Regions from separate parts of the Homo sapiens genome. Here regions 1, 2 and 3 are each linked to region 4. The links come from fine-mapping of genetic effects on gene expression. A gene starts in region 4. Each other region holds a variant in brackets. All regions are shown on one strand. Distances are between the middles of the regions.

Region 1 (2,689 bases), 20 kb before region 4:
GACAACAGTCTCTTCAACAAATGATGTTGGGAAAACTGGAGGTCCACATGCAGAAGATTGAAATTAGAAACTTATTTCATACCATACACTAAAATCAACTGAAAATGAGTTAAAGAGTAAATATAGGACCTGAAAAAACTACTAGAAGAAAACACGGGGAACAGTCCATGACATTGGTCTGGGCAATTATTTTTTGGATGTGACCCCAAAAGCAAGGGCAATCAAAGCAAAAATAGACAAATATGATTACTTCAAATTAAAAGCCTTCTGTATAACAAAGAACAAACATCAGAGTTAAAAGAACCTACAGAATGGGAGAAAATATTTGCAAACTCTACATCTGATAAAGGGTTACTATATAAGGAACTCAAATACTCCATAACCAGAAAACAATAGGCTGATTTAAAATGTGAAATGATCTGAACAGACATTTCTCAAAAGAAGACATACAGAGGCCAAGAGGTATATAAAAAAAATTCTATATCAGTAATCATTGAGAAAATGGAAATTAAAACTACTATCAGATACAACTTCACTCCTTTTAAAATGGCTACTATAAAAAAAGACAAAGGATAATAAGTGTTGTTGAGGATGTGGAGAAAATGAAAATATTCACGAACTACGCATCTGATAAAGGTCTAATATCCAGATTTTTTTTTTCTTTTGAGACGGAGTTTTGCTCTTTCCCCTAGGCTGGGGTGCAGTGATGCAATCTCAGCTCACTGCAACCTCCCACTTTCAGTTTCAAGTGATTCCCCTGCCTCAGTCTCTCAAGTAGCTGGGATTACAGGCGCCTGCCACCATGCCAGGCTAATTTTTGTATATTTAGTAGAGACAGGGTTTCACCATGTTGGTCAGGCTGGTCTCTAACTCCTGACCTTGTGATCCACAGGCCTCGGCCTCCCAAAGTGCTGGGATTACAGGCTTGAGCCACCATGCCTGGCCCTTATTTTTTATTTTTTATTGGAGACTGCATTCCACTATGTTGGTCAGGCCGGTCTCGAACTCCTGATCTCAGGTGATC[C/T]GCCCACCCCAGCCTCCCAAAGTGCTGGAATTATAGGCATGAGCCACCATGACCGGCCTTATATCCAGAATTTATAAGGAACTTAAATTAACAGGCAAAAAACAACCCCATTAAAAAGTGGGCAAAGGACATGAGCAAACACTTTTCAAAATAAGTGTGGCCAAAAAAACATATGAAAAAATGCTCAATATCACTAATCATCAGATAAATGCAAATAAGAACCATGAGATACCATCTTACACCAGTCAGAACGACTATCATGAAAAAGAAAAAAAAATATGATGTCGGGAAGGCTGCAGAGAAAAGGGAATGCTTACACACTGTTGGTGGGAATGTAAATTAGTTCAGCCATTGTGAAAAGCAGTCTGGATGTTTTTCAAAGAACTTAGAACTACTTTTTGACCCAGAACTACTTTTGACACAGTCTCATTACTGGGTATATATCAAAAAGAAAATAAATAATTCCACTGAAAAGACACATGCATTCATATATTCATTGCAACACTATTCACAATAGCAAAGACATGAAATCAGCCTAGATGCCTATCAACAGTGGACCGGATAATGAAACTGTGGTATACATACATCATGGAATACCACACAGCTATAAAAAAGAATAAAATCATGTCCTTTGCAGCAACATGGATAGAACTGGAGGCCATTATCCTAAGAGAATTAATGTAGCAAAAGAAAACCAAATACTGCATGTTCTCACTGGTAAATAGGAGTAAACATTGGATACTCATGGACATAAAGATGGCAGCAATAGACACTGGGGAGGGGGAAAGTGTTGAAAAACTACTGGGTACCATGCTCACTACCTGGGAAGTGGGTATAATAGTACCGTAAACCTCAGCATCATACAATATACCCATGTAACAACCTGCACAGGTACACCCTAAATCTAAAATAAAAGTTGAAATTATTTTTAAAAATTCCCAACAAAGGGAAATCATAACTATTTGAGGTTATGGATATCCCGATTATCCTGACTTGACCATTATATATTGTATGCATGAGTCAAGATATCACATATACTCCATAAATATGTACAACTATTATGTATCAATAACTTTTTTTTTTTTTTCTGAGCAATAAGGCTGTTTATTTCACCTGGGCGCAGGTGGGCTGAGTCAGAAAAGAGAGTCAGTGAAGGGAGATAGGGGTGGGGCTGTTTTATAGGATTTGGGTAGGTAGTGGAAAATTACAGTCAAAGGGGGTTGTTCTCTGGCAGGCAGGGGCGGGGGTCACAAGGTGCTCATTGGGGGAGCTTCTGAGCCAGGAGAAGGAATTTCACAATGTAATGTCATCAGTTAAGGCAGGAACAGGCCATTTTCACTTCTTTTGTGATTCTTCAGTTACTTCAGGCCATCTGGATGTATACGTGCAGGCCTGGGCTCAGAGGCCTGACATTCCTGTCTTCTTATATTAATAAGAAAAATAAAGATCAGATAGTTGTAGATATGCGGCATTATTTCTGAGGGCTCTGTTCTGTTCCATTGATCTATATCTCTGTTTTGGTACCAGTACCATGCTGTTTTGGTTACTGTAGCCTTGTAGTATAATTTGAAGTCAGGTAGTGTGATGCCTCCAGCTTTGTTCTTTTGGCTTAGGATTGACTTGGCGATGCGGGCTCTTTTTTGGTTCCATATGAACTTTAAAGTA
Region 2 (2,689 bases), 38 kb before region 4:
TGTTATAATATTCTATATTTATCTATGTACTTATTGTTACCAGTGAGTTTTGTATCTTCAGATTCTTTTTCTTTTCTTTTTTTTTGAGATGGAGTCTTGTTCTGTCACCCAAGCTGTAATGCAGTGGCATGATCTCAGCTCACTGGAACCTTTGCCTCCTGGGTTCAAGTGATTCTCCTGACTCAGCCTCATGAGTAGATGGGATTACAGTTGCCTGCCACCACACCTGGCTAATTTTTGTAGTTTTAGTAGAGACGGACTTTCACCCGGCTGGCCTTGAACTCCTGACCTTGTGATCCACCCGCCTCAGCCTCCCAAAGGGCTGTGATTATAGGCGTGAGCCACTGCGCCCAGCCAGATGTCTTATTGCTTGTTAACATCCTTTCTTTTTTCAGATCGAAGAACTCCCTTTAACATTTCCTGTAGGATAAGTCTGGTGTTGATAAAATCCCTAAGATTTTATTTGTCTGGGAAAGTATTTCTCCTTCATGTTTGAAGGATATTTTCACTGGATTTAATATTGTAGAATACAAGTTTTTCCTCCAGCACTTTACATATATAATGCCACTCTCTCTTGGCCTGTAAGGTTTCCACTGAGAAATCTACTGCCAGATGTGTTGCGCCTTTATATGTTATCTTTTTCTTATATCTTGCTGCTTTTAGGATCCTTTCTTCATCTTTGACATTTGGAAATCTGATTATTAAATATCTTGAGGTAGTCTTATTTGGGTTAAATCTGCTTGGTATCCCATAAGTTTCTTTTTCTTTTTTTCTTTTTTTTAATTCAGGTGTCCTTTTACTGCCGGCAACCGAGAGATGGCTAGAGCTCAAAATTCTCTCGGCCCTGAAGAAGGGGCTAGATTTCTTTTTATACTGTGATCTAAATAGGGGATGGGGAGCCTAGCTGAAGCAATTTTTACGGAAGCAGAACAGGCAAAAAGTTTAAAAAAATTAATGGTTACAGAGATAGTTACAGAAATATAAACAGTTCCAGGTGCAGGGGCTTAAACTATCACAAAGAGATAAATGCAGGGGCTTGGGTACCATCCACTGAGCACATCCCCAGCAGCTGCTGGTACAGCTTGCCTCAATATCTTATCAGTAAGTGCATTCCTGGATGTGCTTGGAGTCAGCTTGCACTAGTTATTCCCCTAAGGGAGGGGGGATAAGGGGGCTGCAAGTGAAGAAGCTAAAATGGAGTCTGTCCGGCTCTCTCAGCTAAGAGAGAGTCACTCAGGTTAAAACAGGGTAGGGTATCACAGATAGACAGTTGATA[T/C]AATTGATAGATGATAGATTACTTTTATGGGTCCTCCCCTGTCCATTAAGACTGAAACTGTGTGTGATTATGTTTCCTTGAATCATTACCACTTTTTTCTTCCTAAGCGTGTTACCTTCCTATTTCACCATAGAAACTTTCAATATTTTGCTCAGAAACTCAGGGCTTTTGGGTACTGCCCTCCCACTGTCTAGTTTTTGTGCTTTCTTTTGGGGTCCTCTCTGGAGGCCACAACCATCTTTGGGGCATGCCCAGGAGAGAAGGAGGTGGATCTAGTTCCCTTAGAATGGCTTTGGTGATGCTCTTTGCTGCAGACAGACTACAATCTGCTCCAACATCCCTTCCCCCTTTCTTTTTTCTTTGCCTCCCCTCCTCTGCCACATCTCTATTCCTCCCAGCCTTTCTCCACTCTTCTGTACGCCCATCATTCTCCTCCACTTCCAAGGTCACAGGCATCACCATGTAAGCCTCCCATCCCAGATAAGCAGCCTCCAAGATGACCCATGATCCCCACCTCCTTGTATGTACATCGTTGTGTAGGACCCTTCTGCACTGAGCAGGGCTGAGCTGTGTTAGCACTAGGATATATGGGAATGACAAGGTGGCATATGACTTCCAAAGTTAAGGTCACTTTGCTGTCTCGGATCACTAAGGCAGCTATCATGTTGTGAGGAGGCTCAAGTTGTCTTGTGGTGGGTCCCTGTGGCAAGGAACTGAGCTCTCCTGCTGACAGCCAGCAGTGCCTTCCCAACCATTAGAGTGAGTCACCTTAGAAGCAAATTCTCCAGCTCCAGTGTATCCTTTAGATAACTGCCACTCTGGTCATCATCTTGTCTACAACCTCATGAGAAACCTCAGCCAGAACCACCCAGCTAAGTTGCCTCTGAATTCCTGAGACACAGAAACTGTGAGATAATAAATGTTTACTGTTTTAAGACTCTAAATTTGGAGTAATTTGCTATTCAGCCATAGAAACTAACACTCATTTCATCATGCCTGACACTGATATCGCTACAGTTTCACATCCCTGTGGCTAAAGCTCTCCAAGGGCTCATCATTAATTTCAGGATAAAATCCAAATCCCTTAACATAGAATAGGTCTTTTATGAACTGCCTCCTGCATGCCTCTCAGCCCCATCCGGCCCACTCTGCCTTTCCTCCTTGCATCACTCCAGCTACTCTGAAACACACTGCACCTTCCTAAATGTGGACAGATAAAATTGCCAGACTTTTCATAGGATGCCCAGTGAAATTTGAATTTCAGATAAATAACAAATAATTTGTGTGGTTATACAATATTTGGGACATACTTATACTAAAAACATTGCATGACACATACTTATTCTTAAAAGTTATTATTTTATCTGAAATTCACATTTAATAGGGCATCCTGTACTTTCCGTTGCTAAATCT
Region 3 (2,689 bases), 50 kb before region 4:
GTAATCATAAGTGAAATAGAAATTATTACTGAGAAAATATAGCATTGTGAAAAAAGGAAATAAAATAAGGGGGATTAGGAATTTTTGGAGAATTGCAGCTTTAAATAGGTAGATGAAAGTAAGCCTATCTGAAAAGGCCACCTGGCAAAGGCTGAGAGGGGGATGAAGGAGTGATTCAAGGGATATGGGGATCATGAGAGGTCAGGAAGCTTTGCAGGCAGAGGTTGGAATGCCTTGAGGTGAGAGGGAGCCTGAGATGTTTAAGAAAAAGCAAGGAGGCCAATACCACTAGATGGTGCCTATGTGAGGCGGAGGGGTGGACAGTAGAAAATGATGTCAGAGAGGAAAGGCAGGAGGAGTACAGGTTAGATAAGACATGTAGGCTATTGAAAATAAACTTTATTGAAATATAGTGCACATACCCAAAAGACCATGTATCATACATAGTCAGTTTAATAAATTGTCACAAAACAACCAAACTCATGGAACAAACATTCAGATAAAGAAAGATAATATTACCTGACTTCAGGAGCCTACTTTTGGTTCCCTTTAAGGCACTGATACCCTTCCCCCAGTAGCTCATATCCTTACTTTTAACCACAGCATAGCTGGGCATGGTGGCTCACGCCTGTAATCCCAGCACTTTGGGAGGCCGAGGCGGGTGGATCACTTGAGGTCAGGAGTTCAAGACCAGGCTGGCCAACATGGTAAAACCCAGTCTCTACTAAAAACACACAAAAAATTTAGCTGTGCATGGCAGCACATGCCTGTAATCCCAGCTACTGGGGAAGCTGAGGCAGGAGAATCGCTTAAACTCGGGAGGCGGAGGTTGCAGTGAGCCGAGATTGTGCCACTGCACTCCAGCCTGGGTGACAGAGTAAGACTCCATCTCAAAATAAAATAAAATAAATTAACCACAGCAAAGATTAGTTTTGTCTGTTTTATATAAAATATTAATGGAATTATACAGTATTCTCATTTATTTACTCCTAATTTTAAAGATAAATTCTGTAATCCAGGGCTTGGCAAACTTTCCCTACAAACAACAAAAAGTAAACATTTTGGGCATTGGGCAAAGTGGAGTTTCAAGTACTCAGCTCTGTCATTTCGGCTTAAAAGCAGCCATAGACAATAGGTAAATAAATGGGTGTGGCTAGTGTCCCAAGAAAATTATTTATAAAAACTGAAACTGGCTGGATAGGGCCCATTTGTAATAGTTTGCCAACCCCTGCTTCCATTTGTAATATTATTATTGTGAATGGCTGTGAGGCCCTAATTCTACACTATAAACAGGTAGTCAGTTGTACCAACATTGTTGTGATTAATCATTTTCTCTCTGAATACTACCAGTACTCTTTTTTTCTTTTCTTTTTTTTAAATAGAAATGGAGTCTCACTATATTGCCCAGACTGGTCTCGAAATCCTGGCCTCAGGTGACTTTCCTGCCTCAGCTGGGATTACAGGTACTAGGATTACAAGTGTGAGCCACAGTCTTCAATGCTTATCTATCTCCATCTTTCT[A/G]TTAGGTTCCATTGCTGAAGAGGATGGCGTTATAAAGTAAGGGGAACAGAAAATAAGAGGAAAAACAAAACACAAAGATAAATTTCCTGAGGAAGAATTGTGCAGACTTAATGAGAAATATGCACAGCACCCTTACCCTAATTTTACGACCAGAGAACTGGTCAAACAACTGCATTGTCATGTGTGTGTAAGTCATGTAAGTTTAGAGGTTTTTGTTTTTGTTTTTTTTTTTTTTTTGAGACAGAGTCTCCCTGTGTTGCACAGGCTGGAATGCAGTGGGGCGATCTCGGCTTACTGCAACCTCTGCCTCCCAGATTCAAGCAATTCTCCTGCCTCAGCCTCCCAAGTAGCTGGGACTACAGACGCATGCCACCACGCCCGGCTAATTTTTTGTGTTTTAGTAGAGATAGGGTTTCACCGTGTTGCCTAGGCTGGTCTCGAACTCCTCAGCTCAGGCAATCTACCTGCCTCAGCCTCCCAAAGTGCTGGGATTACAGGTGTGAGCCACCACGCCTGGCAAATTTAGAGCTTTGTAAATTTCCTGGAAAATATAGATGAGGCTGGGCGCAGTGGCTCACACATGTAATCCCAGCACTTTGGGAGGCCAAGATGGGTGGATAACCTGAGGTCAGGAGCTCGAAACCATCCTTGCCAGCACGATGAAACCTTGTCTGTACTAAAAATATAAAATTTAACTGGGCATGGTGGCATATGCCTGTAATCCCAGGTACTCAGGAGGCTGAGGCAGGATAATCGCTGGAACCCGGGAGGCAGATGTTGCAGTGAGCCAAGATCACACCACTGAACTCCAGACTGGGTGACACAGCGAGACTCCATCTCAAAAAAAAAAGAAAAGAAAAGAAAAAAGAAAAAATATAGATGGATGTAGGTACTAGTTTTTTTTTTAATAGAGAGGCAAATAATTGAATGATATCAAAGAGAAAAGAGTGGTAGTCAACCAAAATAAAAAGTATGAAATTTCTCACATAATAAAAGTATCATAATATTTGCATTTTTACAGATAATATAAAAAATGAAAAGAATTATGAAGCAGTGTAATAGCATTAATCACCTGGTAAAATGGTATTGATATTTTGCCACATTTCTTGTTTATCTATATGTGATACCAATGTGTGTTGGGAAAACATGAGTAGAGTGAGGCTAATTT
Region 4 (2,689 bases):
AAAAGCACATTAAAGTGAAAAACTCACAGATTATATAAAGCAATTACATAATTGAGACTAAAAAGCAACTGGGTAACAATTATCATGACAGGAACAAAACATCACATATCAATATTAACCTTGATAATAAATGGAGTAAATGTTCCACTTAAAAGATACAGATTGGTGCTGGGTATGATGGCTTACACTTGTAATCTCAGAACTTCGGTAGGCTGAGGCAGGAGAATTGCTTGAGACCAGGAGTTTGAGACCAGCGTGGGCAACAGAGTGAGACCCCATCTCTGTAAAAAATTAAAAAGAGAAATTAGCCAGGTGTGATCATGCTCACCTGTAAAGAGGCTGAGGCAGGACAATCACTTGAGCCCAGGAGTTTGAGGCTGCAGTGAGCTATAAATGCATTATGGCACTCTAGCCTGGGTGACAGAGTGAGACTGTCTCAAAAAAAAAAAAAATACATACAGACTAAAAGATTGGATAAAAGTAGCATCAGCTCAGGGGTCCTAACTAGTTACAAGAACAGTGCACAAGACAAACACCAGCTAAGATGGCAGGGAGAACAAGCCTGAACAAGGCAAGGCAGAGGTCTGCTAAGGGAAATCCATCCCACAAAAGACAAGCAAGGCAGGGGCTCTCTGAGGCCTAGAGCAGCATGCAAAAGAGCAACTCTTTCCAGGTGGCAGCTCCCTAGCTGCTGCCCCCACATGCTGCTGCCTCTGCAGCCACTCTACCTGCCCCACCCCTGCCCAGGTATTCCAAGCAGCTCTCAGCTCTTTCCCAATATCTGGGCAGTGCTGTTGAGACAAAGGAAGAGGAGAAGTGGACACAGCAGGTCTTGGCTCTTAAGATCTGCAGTTGTGAGTTCCTTTTGCAATCGCTGTAGGTCATTGTGCAACCTGCTGGTCTCTGGACTCCTGATTTCTAGACATCTATAAAATACAGACACTGATGATGCCACTTAATTCACAGAGCTGCAGTGAGAAAGGTGCAGATGAGTTCAAGGCCTGATAGTGTTCTGCAAACTATAGTGATGGATGTGCATAGTATTGTGAATATCAGTGGCAGGTTTCCAGAACGCAGGTGGGGATAAGAGTGAGTGAGTCAATAAAGAAGAAAATTGCCCCACTTCTTGAAGGGAGTTTTTGGGGCTGGGCAGCTCAGGGTACAGGGCAGGCATAAATAGTGAGTGCCTGCCAAGCAAAGGCTAGTTTGCTTGGAGCTCCTGGGGCCTAACAAAAAGAAACCTGTAAGTGTCTCTGTTCTTGCCTTCTTTTTATTTTCTCCACATCCTATAAATATCCCTCTGCCGACCTGGGCAATTCAACCTATTGGTGTGGAGGGTCTGTGTAGCTGTTCTGGTCTAGGAGGCATGGGCGCAGGAGGTGGGGAGCACAGGAGGTCTTATGGTGCTCTTCTGCCCCTTATTCAGTGGCCTCAGCCCAGGGGAGGATTTGCTTTCTGAGCTGGGGGTGCACAGGGTGGAAGAGTGGGTGTGACACTATCTAGACCTGGGATGCCACAGTGTGGAAGCTTCAGGTGGAAAAATGCAATGCTAATTTATCTCTAGGCTCTTTTCTGCACTGATTTCTTCAGAAAGGACAGTGGAAGAGAGACAAACCCAGGCACTCACAGGCTGGGGTTCTAAACCCATCCTGGTGCCAACAGCCTGTGGAAAAGCAGGGCAAGCCTGTTTTTCTCATAGCTTCAGGTCTTTACTTTAAAAAATATACTTACTGGAGTAGGTCTCTGATTTTCCAATCCATGTTCAGAGGAGATGGCCTTTTCAATGAAATTGTACTCTGAAAGCTTAGCATAAACTGGGCACTGCAGGGGTTGAGGGGGACCACAACTCTGCCCACTCCATCTGCTGCCCCAGCTAAGATGCCTCATCTGAATCCTGGGCCTGAAAACCCGGGTCTGCCCTCTCCAAGTGTCCTTCAAGCCACAGTGGCTGCTGGTGCCTTCTGTGCCATCTTGAGCCTGTAGACAGAATGCCTATTGCCTTTCATTCTTCCCCAGAATCAGACACAGGGCCTGAGGGGTGAGGGAGCTGCGGGGCACAGAACAATGCCCTTGCTCTGGCCTGGGTCTGGCCCTTGCTGCTCATGATTGAGCCTCTGCCAGAACAGGTGTAACAAGGTAGCCGCTGCTGGCAGTGAGCTCACCCAGGTGTTTCTAGAGACTACCAGGATACCCAAGGAAGTGGTGATTTCAAAATTGAAAGAGGCTAGTGAGAAATAGGGGTCATCCACAGCCCAGAATCACCAGCAGTCAAAGAAGAAGGCACTCCTCTGGGCAGGAAGCCCCCCACTTGCCACCACCCCAGTTGGCCTGGTGACCCCTTTCTTTGCACAAGTCCCTCTGGCTTTGTTCCTAGCCTCTGCGAATCTGATCAGCTCTTTTCACTCTCATAACTTTACGGTTTCTCATTGAGAGAAAAGATACCCAAAACAGTTAATGTCCCAGGTCCTGCTCTTATCCTGGTCTCAGTTCCTGACCATCTTAGATAGTAAATGGGTGCCCTGTTGGGTAGTTGCTCTTGCTTACCCACAACACTAGCTTTCTGCCTGACTGAGCCTACCTGGCATGTCCTCTTTCCATATAAGACTTCTTTTTTTTTCTGAGATGGAGTCTCACTCTCTTGCCCAGGCTGGAGTGCAGTGGCACGATCTCGGCTCACTGCACCCTCCAC

Direction of the effects. Alleles are on the strand shown, and positions count from the first base shown. SD is a standard deviation of normalised expression in the study named. Not every link is listed here.
For the expression in atrial appendage of the gene that starts at base 1,204 in region 4, allele C in region 2 goes with a higher level than allele T (moderate effect, 0.54 SD a copy in GTEx).
With allele G in place of A in region 3, the expression in anterior cingulate cortex of the gene that starts at base 1,204 in region 4 is higher (moderate effect, 0.64 SD a copy in GTEx).

What was found. PIP is the estimated chance that this variant, and not a neighbour inherited with it, causes the effect.
Region 1: its variant is fine-mapped to the expression of SFTPD in whole blood (TOPMed, PIP above 0.99). The same link has a PIP of 0.9 or more in blood mononuclear cells and monocytes.
Region 2: its variant is fine-mapped to the expression of SFTPD in atrial appendage (GTEx, PIP above 0.99).
Region 3: its variant is fine-mapped to the expression of SFTPD in anterior cingulate cortex (GTEx, PIP above 0.99). The same link has a PIP of 0.9 or more in amygdala and whole blood.

Annotation. Positions count from the first base shown.
Region 1 is chr10:79,967,450-79,970,138 of GRCh38, reverse strand. It overlaps a transcript of SFTPD not described here. Among named protein-coding and RNA genes, the nearest start is that of SFTPD, 20 kb to the right of the region's middle. The variant C/T (reference allele first, on the strand shown) is at 1,025.
Region 2 is chr10:79,985,223-79,987,911 of GRCh38, reverse strand. No RefSeq gene overlaps it. Among named protein-coding and RNA genes, the nearest start is that of SFTPD, 37 kb to the right of the region's middle. The variant T/C (reference allele first, on the strand shown) is at 1,277.
Region 3 is chr10:79,997,795-80,000,483 of GRCh38, reverse strand. No RefSeq gene overlaps it. Among named protein-coding and RNA genes, the nearest start is that of SFTPD, 50 kb to the right of the region's middle. The variant A/G (reference allele first, on the strand shown) is at 1,522.
Region 4 is chr10:79,947,620-79,950,308 of GRCh38, reverse strand. It overlaps SFTPD (surfactant protein D), which reads left to right and starts at 1,204. Exons shown (of 8, transcript NM_003019.5): 1 at 1,204-1,243.